Regions from separate parts of the Homo sapiens genome. Here all the other regions are linked to region 3. The links come from fine-mapping of genetic effects on gene expression. A gene starts in region 3. Each other region holds a variant in brackets. All regions are shown on one strand. Distances are from middle to middle. Region 1 overlaps CCDC66 (coiled-coil domain containing 66). Region 2 overlaps TASOR (transcription activation suppressor). Region 3 holds the start of CCDC66 (coiled-coil domain containing 66).

Region 1 (4,360 bases), 37 kb after region 3:
AAAACAAGGGAAGAAAGTAACATTGTGAGGTATATCGTCATTGTAGGATTCTGTCAAACAGTTTTTCTTAATTATGTCTTGTAGTTATTTCATGTAATGAAATGTTTTGTTGTTTGCCTGTTGCATTTCAGAAGAATTTGAGTAGAATATATTTTTTTCCTTTTTTAAAAGAGTATCCTAAACTCATCAATTAAAGTGGCAGCAAACTTTTATGCTACTGTTTTCATTTTTTACTTTTTCCTTAAGATTCAAAGACTCGTTCTGGACACAGTATATTTTTGTTATTGAAACATCATAGGCTGTGATAGAGCTGTAGTAGCAGAAACCTAGAAGACAGAGGTTCTCCTAGAGAGAGACATGATTCAATAGGGAAAGTCTCTTGCTCTCACACATCTTTCTATATTCTCCTTGTTCTTGGTCCAAAGACAATATTCCAAATGTTGTATTCCAAAGCCAAATGTAAAACAATATTCATCTGTTTTAAATTAATAACTCTTTCAGCCTCTAAAAGAGACTTAGAATTTTGAAAAACAATATTTTTGAGACAGGGTCTCACTCTGTTGCCCATGCTGGAGTGCAGTGGCATGATTTCAGCTCACTACAACCTCCACCTCCCGGGTTCAAGTGATTTGTGTCTCAGCCTCTCAAGTAGCTGGGATTACAGACATGCACCACCACAGCTGGCTAATTTTTTTTTTTTTTTTCAGTAGAGATGAGATTTTGCCATGTTGGCCAGGGGCTGGCCTTGAACTCCTGGGCTCAAGTGATCTGCCCATGTCAGCCTCCCAACATGCTGGGATTATAGTCATGAGCTGCTGCATCCAGCTGAATTTTGAAAGTCTTTTAATTGTTTTGGAGAAAGAATTTTCTGTTTTTCATTAGAAAATTCCCTTCCCTTACACTTAGATATCTTATTATATATCTCTGATCTAGTATATTTAAAATATGATTCTGAGAATCAGAATATATCTACTTAATTCTTTGAATTCAAATTCGTTTGAAGTTATTGCTCCTCTTACAGATAAATGCCTCAGTGGATTAAATCTGTATGTTACTTTGGCAAGATTTGCACATATTAAGTGATTAGAAAAAGAGAACTGAACTTTAGATGGCTTTTATGGCTGTTGTTTAGGAAACAGTACTGCTGGAGCACCCTTTCAGTGCTGTGAAACAAGAACTGCAAAGAAAATGGATTGAAGAGTTGAATAAGCAAATAGAAGATGACCGTCAAAGAAAAATAGAGGAAAAAATTATATATTCAAAGGTAACTTATGAGGTTTTGTGGCTATAAAAGAAAAAATAAAATCAAAGTCTTTAATCAATTAAAACTAGAAGTATTCTGAAACTCTTGACAAGACCAGAATATTCCATTTATTCCACATTTGCCCATGTGAACCTGTTTCATTGAATGCATTATGTGATGTTGCATAGCTTCTTACAACTTTTTAGAAATTTCCTAATTCTTTGAATTTCTCAAATTTTCAAAGCTAGTGATCTATATGTATAAGGACTCTAAACAGTACAGTCTTGTTAATTTTTATGATGCTTATTCTGCTCTAAGGTGACTTTTAGAAATCATCTTTGGTTGTCATTTAGAATTATATATGAGAATAATTGGAAAAATTCTTAGCAATTCTTATTTGTCATCATTAGGGTGAGGAACATGACAGATGGGCAATGCACTTTGATTCATTAAAGAGTTATCCTGGTTCTCAATCTCAGCTGTTCTCTCAGTCAACACACAAACAACCTGAGTACTTCTGTGTCTCTCCTGACACTCAGGAGCTGGCTGATGTCAGCAGTGTTTGTACACCTACAACCGGAAGCCAGGTTGAACCTTCAGAGGAGGAGCATATAGCAAAACCTATTAAGGATGTGGTTATGGCAAACAGTAAGAAAACAAAGTAAGTTCATGCTTATGTATTTATTGACTTTTCAGAAAGTCTGTGTGCTTTAGTAAGACTGTTGTTATGTCTAATTGGTTTCAGGTTTGGTATTTGTCTTTGAAATAGAAATAATTAGTAGATTTATCCCAAACAAAAATGATTTAGCTTGTTGAATCTACCTTTTTGAGGTTTTGAATAGCTAATGTATGTATCTTGCCAGCTTTCTCCGTTCTATGACTGCTCTCTTGGACCCAGCTCAGATTGAGGAACGAGACAGACGACGACAAAAACAATTAGAGCATC[A/G]GGTATTGCATTGTTAAACATTGTTCTTTACCTTAATAAGTAACAGTCATGGTGAACATATACCTAAGTAAATGGAAATTTAAATTCTGATGTAAACTTTACAGCATAGGTCCTGTCCAGTTGTGTCACGAATCCAATCCCTACCACAACTGGCATTGTAATATTAGAATTAGCTTATCAAATGCTACAGCCACCTGCCTTCCAGTACAGAAGGTCTTTAATATATTAAGTTGTATATGTGAATTTGTGTTGTCTTAGGTTAGTACTGGTTTTTTTTTTTTTCATCAATTTATTTCTCCTGAGTTCTGTTTAAGATGAGAATTCATTCTTTGAATAGGGATTGAACTAGAATTATGACTAAGAAATCTAATGCATAATGGCCGGGCACGGTGGCTCACGCCTGTAATCCCAGCACTTTGGGAGGCTGAGTGGGCAGATCACGAGGTCAGGAGATCAAGACCATCCTGTGAATGGTGAAACCCCGTCTCTACTAAAAATACAAAAAATTAGCTGGGCGTGGTGGCAGGCGCCTGTAGTCCCCAGCTACTCGGGAGGCTGAGGTGGGAGAATGGCATGAACCTGGGAGGCAGAGCTTGCAGTGAGCTGAGATTGTGCTACTGCACTCCAGCCTGGGCGACAGAGTGAGACTCCATCTCAAAAAAAAAAAAGAAATCTAATGCATAATATAAGAAAGGAGGCTAAAATTAAAATTAAAACTTCCTGTCCTGATTTTAGCCTAATGCTAAAGGGACTTTAATATCTGCATAATTCTTCAAATCCTTTGATATATGAATTTGGCATCATTAATGTTATGCTTAGTCAGTGAGCAGACATTTGCAGAGCATCTGCTACTTAACAGGCACTATGCTAAGCACTGAGATTATTTCTTCAGTTTTTTTTAATACCATTTCCTCCAGTAGCCCTCCTAGGGTTGAAGAAAAGGCATGTAGAACTTGACAGTACAAATGGGAGATGGGAGAAATGCATTGGAAATTTGACATTTCCACTTCACTTATATAAATAATACTTTCAGTATGCTGATAAAAACTTATTTCTACAGTCACCAAACTAATGCTTCATGGATTTTAAAAATTGATATATAATGTTTTATATATTTATAGGATACATATGATATTTTGTTATATATGTAGAATGCGTAATGATTCAGCCAGAGTATTCTGGTATCTATCACCTTGAGTATTTATCATTTCTGTGTTGGGAACATTTCAAGTTTACTAGCCAATTTGAAATATATAATACATTGTTGCTGACCATAGTCACCTTACTATTGCTATCAAACATTAGAACTTATTCCTTTCATCTAACCATATGTTTGTACCCATTAACCTACCTCTCTTGATCACTACCACCCTCACACACACCCTTCCCAGCCTTTGATACCTATCATTCCATTCTTTAGCTCGTTGAGACCTACTTTTTTAGCTCCCACATATGAGTGGGAACATGTGATGTTTATCTTTATATACCTGGCTTATTTCACTTAACATAATGACGTCCAGTCCCATCTGTGTTGCTGTAAATGACAAGATTCTATTCTTTCTTTATGGCCAAATAGTATCCCATTGTGTATATACCACATTTTGTTTATCTATTTGTTCATCAATGGACACTCAGATTGTAAATAGTGCTACAGTTAGCACAAGAGTGCAGGTTTCCTTTTGATATACAGATTTCATGTTCTTTCGATAAATATCCAGTACTGGGAATGCTGGATCATATGGTAGTTCCATTTTTAGTTTTTTGAGACGTCTCCATACTGTTTTCCATAGTGACTGTATTTATTTACATTCCCACTAACAATGTATAAGGATTCCCTTTTCTCCGCTTCCTTGGCAGTATCTGTTAGTTTTTGTCTTTTGGTATGTTTGTTTGTTTGCTTGTTTTTGAGACAGGGTCTTGCTCTGCTGCGCAGTCTGGTATGCAGTGGCATAATCATGGCTCACTGTAGCCTCATACCCCTGGGCTCAAGCAATCCTGCTGCCCGAGCCTCCCCAGTAGCTGATATTACAAGCATGCGCCACCATGTCAGGCTAATGTTAATTTTTTTCTTTTATAGAGACACAGTCTCACTATGTTGACCAGACTGGTTTCGAGCTCCTTGCCTCAAACAGTCCTCCAACCTCAGCCTCCCAGAGTGCTGGGATTACAGG
Region 2 (4,000 bases), 79 kb after region 3:
CCTTAGAGTTGTAGCTAGTGTTAACAACTCTGCTATTTTGAAGCGCTCAAGCAAGCACCAATTTGGCATCAATACAAATTAAGTCATTTGCTTGTTTCTGCCTCCCTACCATTCTGTAGATCTAAGTTTAATACACATTTTAAATCAAGACAGTCAATTACATCAGCTTGCTCAATCCCTGTATTTATTATTTGCCAAGTAATATCTACTATGGTAATGGCCCCTTAGTAAGAATTCTGAGTGTAAGGCAATTGTAAGAATACCAAACAGAAATGCTGTGGGAATAACTGCCAAGTTAAAAGTTGCATCTAGGATCTAGGATAATTAATTTTATCTGCTTTCAGACTTGTTCTCACTTACGAGGTTGCTAAGTAGATTTCCTGTAATGTCAGGGACTTCATTTTATCAGGAAATAAAAGGAACAATAATAAGACAAGAGAAGAACATATTTCACAGCTGCACATTTTTGACAGTCCTTTCATAAATATTTTCCTTTTGTTTGGAAATAATTCTAAAAGAAAAGATAGCTATACCTCATTTGAGATACAGATGTTAGCTGATACTAAGGTTAGCTGATACTAATGAGATTAAAACCTTTCACTCTTGACAAACAGCTCAATCCAAAAGATCATACTTTCCCCAAAAAAATCCTAAATTCAAACACAGTATGTTTTTGAAACTACATTTGAAAAAGGGAACTCTAATTCCATTTTTAAGCAACAAGGGGAAAAATATATTTAACTTCAATTTTAGTGTTATATTTTAGGAAAGGACAAAAACTCATGATCTTTGCTTAGAAGACGTATACACAATTTTACCCGCTAAAAAATTACTGTTTTTCTTTAAGCCTTGGCCAACATTCCCTAACAAATTGCTGCTGTAGTATAGGAAATGGTGCCTCTAAATCAGAAAGTCCAGGTACAGGTAGTTTTCAAACTTACAGTGAAGATTTTGCTCACACTCATCACACTTTTCTAAAGGTTTAAATAGCCTCACTAGGAGTCGAGCTTATGACATTCTCTACCAATCCTGGTGGTTATCATGAACCAGTACACTCATTAACTATTGCAAAGGCAATTTGTCAGCACAGTGAAAAGACCCAAGGCGGGTCTGTAGGCGGAGGTGAGAGGGGAACAAAATATCCAACGTGCCAGGATAAGAATTAGAACTGTATGAAATTGATAAACCAGAAAATCCAAGTTTCATAAGATAATTAGGAGTACTAAATATCCTGAGTATCTTAAATCTCCAACATTAAAATGTGCTTTAGTACACATAAAGTGTCTGGAAGGATACACGAGAAATTGGTAACCATGGCTAATATATGGGGAAGAATCTAAGTGTTCCGGGCTGGGGCAGTATTACTTTCTTAAGTATTTTTGGACTTCTTGAATTACGTATCATGTCAAATATCTGATATATTCAAAGAAAAAAAATTGAATTGCATCTCATAAAACATATGGGTTGCGAAGAACTACCTTAATTTAAAAAATTCTGAATTATTTATTAGACATGGGGCCTCACTATGTTTCCCAGACTGGCCCTGAATTTCTGGCCTCAATTCCTCCTGCCTCAGTCTTCCAAGTAGATGGGATTACAGGTACATACCACCACACCCAGCTATTTATTACTTTAAATGCAACAGTGGCTCCCAAAATGTATAGCTAAACAACAACCAGTAAGTTTACTCCTCAAGGGTTATAAATAAAGGGAATATTTTTAACCTGAAATATAAATTAAATCCACATGGAGAATTTTCCATAATTAAAAACCTCTAAACCAAATAGATCCCTTTATAAAATATAAATAATCACAACCTAATTTTATTTTGCACAAATTTCCCTGTATGATTTTATTAAGAACTTAACTGCTCAGGCACAGTGGCTCATGCCTGTAATCCCAGCACTTTGGGAGGCCAAGGCAGGCAGATCACCTGAGGTCAGGAGTTCGAGACCAGCCTGGCCAACATGGTGAAACCTCGTCTCTACTAAAAAAAAAAATACAAAAATTAGCCAGGCGTGGTGGCGAGCACCTGTAATCTCAGCTACTCAGGAAGCAGAGGCTGCAGTGAGCCAAGATTGCACCACTGCACTCCAGCCTGCCTGGGCAACAGAGCAAGATTCTGTTGCAAAAAAAAATAGAAAAAAAAAACAAAACTTAATTATTTTGAAAATATCTTCATCTATAAGTGATTGAAAACACACATACATGTCAATCCATAATAAAGCTTTTGTTGTTG[G/T]TGGTGGTGGTGGTGTTGTTGTTGTTGTTGTTGAGACAGAGACTCGCTCTGCCACCAGGCTGGAGTGCAGTGGTGAGATCTCGGCTCACTGCAACCTCCACCTCCCAGGTTCAAACAATTCTCCTGCCTCAGCCTCCCGAGTAGCTGCGACTACAGGCTCAAGCCACCATGCTCAGCTAATTTTTTTATTTTTAGTAGACAGGGTTTTACCATGTTGGCCAGGATGGTCTCGATGTCTTGACCTCCTGATCCGCACACCTTGGCCTCCCAAAGTGCTGGGATTACAAACATGAGACACCGTGCTTTTTTAAAAAAAAACTTATTGCCATTAAATAATTGCAGTATTTTAACTTTTAAGTGAAAGGGGAGTAGTCAGTTCTCTAAAGGCACCATCATTCAGATGTCTACACTTTAGCTTACAAAATATAAAGATGGTATTTCCAAATAAGAGGAATGCAGGTGCTGATGGAACATTCTGAAGCATAAGAAAGATAACTACTAGCCGGGCACAGTGGCTCACACCTGTAATCCCAACACTTTGGGAGGCCAAGGTGGGCAGATCACGAGGTCAAGAGATTGAGACCATCCTGGCCAACATGGTAAAACCCCGAAATCAGAAAAGAATTACTGATAGATGCAAAACATGGACTCCCTGACACGATATTGCATGAAAGTACCAAACACGAGAGACGACATGAGTAGGCTCTATTTATCCTAAGTTCAACAACAGGCAAAACTAATCAGATTAGCACTTACTTGGGAACAAGGAGAGTACTAACTAGGAGAATGTGGAAGAAAATCTTCTGGGATGCTAGAAACGTTCTACATCTTGATTTGGGTGATGGTCATGTACATATGTAAAATTTCAAAAAGCTGTACAATAAAGATCTGTGGCCAGGTTCAGTGGCTCACTTGAGGTCAGGAGTTCGAGACTAGCCTGGCCGACAAGGTGAAACCCTGTCTCTACTAAAACTACAAAAATCAGCCGGGTGCGGTGGCACATGCCTGTAATCCCAGCTACTTGGGAGGCTGAGGCAGGAGAATCGCTTAACCCAGGAGGCAGAGGTTGCAGTGAACCAAGATCATGCCATTGCACTCCAGCCTGGGTGACAGAGAGAGATTCTGTATCAGAGGGGAAAAAAAAAAAGATTTGTGAACTTTCCTCTATGTTATATATCTGTTGTTCATGGTTTCTTTTTTTTTTTAACCACATTTTCCTAGAAGGAGATGGTGAAGATTTTCTTCAAGGAAACTAGTAACTTTAATTAGCGGGGGAGGGGAACTCCCAAAGGAAATAAATAACTACAAAGATGTAGTCATTTCACATTTCTTACAAATAAAAAAACAACACTTTAATTTCTGAAAAGAGTCAGATACAACAAAACTGAAGGAAAATATAAAAAAGATCACCACCAAACTGTAAACAAGAAAACAATGCCTATGACCATCTGCAGAGAAGTTGAATCCACCAAGATCAGACAAAGATTATCTCCTAGGTACCCACTGCCAACTAGCTAATCAATAATATCTGCAACTGTTTCTGAAATCCAAGTTTCTTAATCTTATTTAATCTACCTGCAGAAATTAGTTTTACAATCAGAAGAACTAGGTTAAAAGACTATGAATAGTATACCTAAAATATAAATGGCTTACCCTTCTTGGCTATTTTTTAAAAATTTAAAAAAGAAGAAACCCAGGTTTGGGGGCTCAAGCCTGTAATCCCAGCACTTTGGGAGGCTGAAGCAGGTGGATCACCTGAGG
Region 3 (4,360 bases):
CACTTTTTCACTGTTAAGTGTGATATTGGGCTCTACAGGATTTTTTTAAAAAATAGAGATAGAGTCTCACCATGTTGCCCAGGCTGGTCTCGAACTCCTACACTCAAGCAATCCTCCTGCCTTGGCCTTCCAAAGTGCTGCAATTACAGGCATAAGCCACCACACCCGGTCTCTAGGAGATTTTTTGTAGATATTGCTTATCAAGTTAAGGACGTTCTCCTATATTGAGAGATTTTAAGAAGCAGAGTGAATTAAGCAGATTCACATTTTAGAAATCATTCTGGCTACAGGCTCACGCCTATAATCCCAGCACTTTGGGAGTCTGAGGTGGGAGGACTACTTGAGGCCAGGAGTTTGAGACCAGCCTGGGCAACGTAAACAGACTCTGTCTCTACAAAAATTTTTTTAAAAATTAACCAGGCGTAGTGGTGCATGCCTGTAGCCCTAGCTACTTGGGAGGCTGAGACAGGAGGATCATTTAAGACCAGGAGTTCGAGGTTACAGTGTTATGTTCGTACCAATGTAGGCGGCCTGGGTGACAGAGCAAAACCCTGTCTCTAAAAAAAAAAAAAAAAGAAAGAAAAGAAAAAGAAAAAGCAAGTGTTGGGGTGAAGAAATTAGAACCTCATATACATTGCTGGCAGAAATGTAAGATGCTGCAACTGTTATGAAAACAGTTTGGCAGTTTCTCGAAAAGTTAACCATAGAATTACCATGTGACCCAGTAATTCCACTCTTAGGTGTATACCAAGAAAATTGAAAATAGGGATTCAAACAGATACTTGTACATCAGTGTTCACTACAGCATTATTCACAATAACTAAAAGATGGAAACAACCCAAATGTCTATTAATGGATGAATGAGTAAACGAATTGTGGTATATATATACATAGAATGGAATACTATTCAATCATAAACAGATATGAAGCTCTGATACATCCTACAACATGGATGCACCTTGAATACATTATGTTACTTGAGAGAAGACACAAAAGGACAAATATTGTATGATTCCACTTTTATGACATGAAGTATCTATAATAGGCAAATTCCTAGAGACAGAAATAAGATTAGAGGTTTCTTAGGATTGAGGGGAGAGGAAAATGGGAAGTTGTTGCTTAATGGGTACAGAATTTTTATTTGGGGGTACTAAAAAGCTTTTGGAAAAATATACTGGCGTATTCCACAACATTGTATCATGGAATTGTCACTTGAAAATGGCTAAAAATAGCAAATTTTAACACACATATTACAACAATAAAAAATAAAAAAGTAAAGGTTTGTCAGGCATTTAATAATTAATACCTTTCATTGTTTTTGTCTGGAAAGAGTGTGTGCAAAGATACTTAACAACCAAATGTAATGTGTGATCCTTGATCGGCTCTTGCATTTTTTTTTTTTTTTTTTGAGACGGAGTCTCACTCTGTCGCCCAAGCTGCTGGAATGCAGTGGCGCGATTGGCTCTTGCTTTCTAAATAAAATGCCTATAAGATATTCTTAGGACAAGTGGGGGAAATTAAATCGGGAAGAGAATTATTATGAAATTAATGATCTTAGGTATAATAATTGTACTGCGGTTATGTAGCAGAACATCTATTCTTAGGAGATACATGCTGCAATGTTAAAGGGTTAAGTGTTACAATGTCTGCAATGTTAAAGGGTTAAGTGTTACAATGTCTGTAACTTACTTGCAAATGGTGACCCCAAAAAGGTGTGTGTGTGTGTGTGTGTGTGTGTGTGTGTGTGTGTGTGTGTGTGTGTGTGTGTGTGTGTCTGTGTACGCGCTTTGGAAGGCTACAATTGCGAGAAGCGCAGGTCTCCGCCACCGAAGCTTTAGACTCATAAGCCGGGTCAGGCCAAATTCCGCTGTGCGTAGGGGAACAAACGGCACAAACGGGGCACAAAAGGGGAACAAACGGCATACGCAACCGTCCCCGCGGGAGCCCCGGCCCAGCTCAGCGCACCCGCCAGCATGCCCCACCCTGATTGGTCCACTTGCTCAGCTCGCCGGCACCCCTATATCCAATTGGCGTAGCGCTTGCTGAGCGGCGGCGGCAACCGACGTACACAAGGGGCTTGAGCGTTCTGTGGAGAGAGTGCGAGGTCAGGCCATGAACTTGGGGTAAGCAGGGGTAAGCTGGGGTAAGCTGGGGTAAGCAAGGTGGTCGTCAGCGGAGAGGGAGGCATGTGTGTCTGGGTTGTCCCTTGGAGTCTTTACTGGAGAACGTTCCCAACCTGCGCCGCCGAGAGGGGCAGAGCCCAGTTCTCGGGTAGAAGATCGAGGCAGATGGGTCGGCCCTTAGCGACTCCACAGACCTTACGTTTTCACTTAATGACTAGCATTAAAACTGCCAGTGATCCCCTTTCGGTCCCTTATTTACCTCAGGATGAGGAGGGAAGAGAGGTGAGGAGGAAAGGAGAGAAATGACGAGACAGTTAGAGGAAGCGTGGCGGCTCCTGGGGAGGACTCCTGGCCCATGCCCCGGGTTCTTCGCCACCTTGTTTTTGGAGTCTTGCAGAATGTTGAAACGCCCAAATTCGTTTTAGGCCCACGAGGCGGGGAACCAGGCTTCTCAAGAAATCGATGTAGTACCAGTGCCTAACACCTAGTAGGCGCTCCTTAAGTAGGGGTGAATAAATAAAAAGGGCTGGTGCATGGTCTTCATCACTCGCAAGTTTGATATTTTGAGAAGATGAGAAGCCACCAAACTCAGACCTAACTACACATCGTTCAGCAAATGTTATTATGTTTTAGAATCTGGGGATATGGAAATAAATAAGATAGTGTGTCCCTTAAGGAGATTACAGTGCAGTGCGTCATTGAAGGTACTTTACCATTGAAGCTCTTTTCTTTCTTGGTGACGTTTCACCAACATAAACACGAACTGTTCATAACCCTACAATAAGGAAAGCCGTAAAACCTATTCTTTCCAGTGTTTTACCTTTAATAGTTAAGGTGAGGTAATTTGATTTCCCCTACCTGAGCAACACCGCAAATTTCGCATTCCTAATCAGACCTTTCCCAGCCTCTCTCTCCCTTGACTGGCTTGCTGGATTTAATTTTCTCTCTCTGAATTATGGACTGTATGTATGGGCTGCCATTTTTGTTCTCAGTGGAGTTTTAGGACCTTAACAGACGTTCAAGTTTTGTTGGCAGTGGCTACTGTTACTTTATGCCTTTGCTTCTGATATGCACGTATAAAGCACCATACTAAATATCACTATGTATTATTTGAAATATTGAAAGTGGTACTCTTTGCTCAAGCAGTTACTAACCTTGATGGCATTGTTAGTAGTCATATCGATGCTCCAGCACTCCATAGAATGTTTTAGTCATGAGTTCATTATGAAACTAATGAATGGCGGTTAAATATATCTTGTTCCTTTAACTTATGTGAGGAGTTTTGGTAACAGCATTATTAAAAAATGGTGGTATGATAACTTAATTTATAGTTTACCAATAACAAAATGAGATTTCAGGTTAATGATAACAATGCTTGTAGTATTGAAGAGTTTCAAGAATTTTCCCCCTGTAGTTGTGGGTTTTATCTTGGATTGCAAACGTTTTTAATTAAAACACTGGTTCGATGTGTACAAGATTCCTGCATAAATTCAAAATAATGGATTTATTGTCAGGTTCAAATGAACATTTCTGGTTATTTAAAATGTTGCGGTTTGTTAAAAATGAGAGACAACTTTCTTTTTTTATTACAGAGATGGTTTAAAGCTTGAAACTGAATTACTGGATGGAAAAACCAAGCTAATATTGTCTCCATATGGTATGTTGTGTTACAGAAATCTGAAATGTTAACTTTTAAATTCATACATAAAATTTATATTAGTTCAACAGACTTTTTGCTTGTAATAGAGTGATATTTAAATGATATTTTAGAAAAAGCTGTTTCCTCAAACTTCTGCAGATTTCCTTCTAGCCAAATAAAATCAGATTACAACACTGCTTACTACTGTCAGTATTCAGACTCATAACATTTAATGTTCCAGTATATTGCGTGTTCATTATATCCATATAGCAAATATCCTCATTGCCTGATGAATAATACAAGTAAAATTTATGTAATTATGTTCTTTGCATGTAAAGAATGTATCATTTGAGAAAAGTTTATAGTAAGACCACCGTAAAATGCTAAAGTCACTTTTAGTATTCGTTTTTAAACTCAGTGTACTTTGGTACCTTCTCCTTCGCATTTTTTTTTCTGTTTATAGTTTTACCTTGGAAAGATAAAAAACAAAAATAAAATAGAAGTAAATCCTTGAACTGGATTAGAAAAAAATACTCAGTCAAGATCTAAAGTTTATGCTTTCGAGGATAATGTTGCTAGCTTAAAATCTTATAACAAT

What was found. PIP is the estimated chance that this variant, and not a neighbour inherited with it, causes the effect.
Region 1: its variant is the best candidate, but not a certain one, in a credible set for the expression of CCDC66 in blood mononuclear cells (TOPMed, PIP 0.62).
Region 2: its variant is the best candidate, but not a certain one, in a credible set for the expression of CCDC66 in whole blood (INTERVAL, PIP 0.76).

Annotation. Positions count from the first base shown.
Region 1 is chr3:56,591,838-56,596,197 of GRCh38, forward strand. It overlaps CCDC66 (coiled-coil domain containing 66), which reads left to right. Exons shown (of 18, transcript NM_001141947.3): 8 at 1,133-1,264; 9 at 1,654-1,904; 10 at 2,107-2,191. Among named protein-coding and RNA genes, the nearest start is that of CCDC66, 37 kb to the left of the region's middle. The variant A/G (reference allele first, on the strand shown) is at 2,190.
Region 2 is chr3:56,634,153-56,638,152 of GRCh38, forward strand. The region is part of intron 17 of TASOR (transcription activation suppressor); the gene reads right to left. Among named protein-coding and RNA genes, the nearest start is that of TASOR, 47 kb to the right of the region's middle. The variant G/T (reference allele first, on the strand shown) is at 2,240.
Region 3 is chr3:56,555,131-56,559,490 of GRCh38, forward strand. CCDC66 (coiled-coil domain containing 66) reads left to right here and starts at 2,045. Exons shown (of 18, transcript NM_001141947.3): 1 at 2,045-2,123; 2 at 3,716-3,780. The coding sequence starts at 2,113. RefSeq lists enhancers at 1,488-2,160, 2,161-2,832, 2,301-2,460.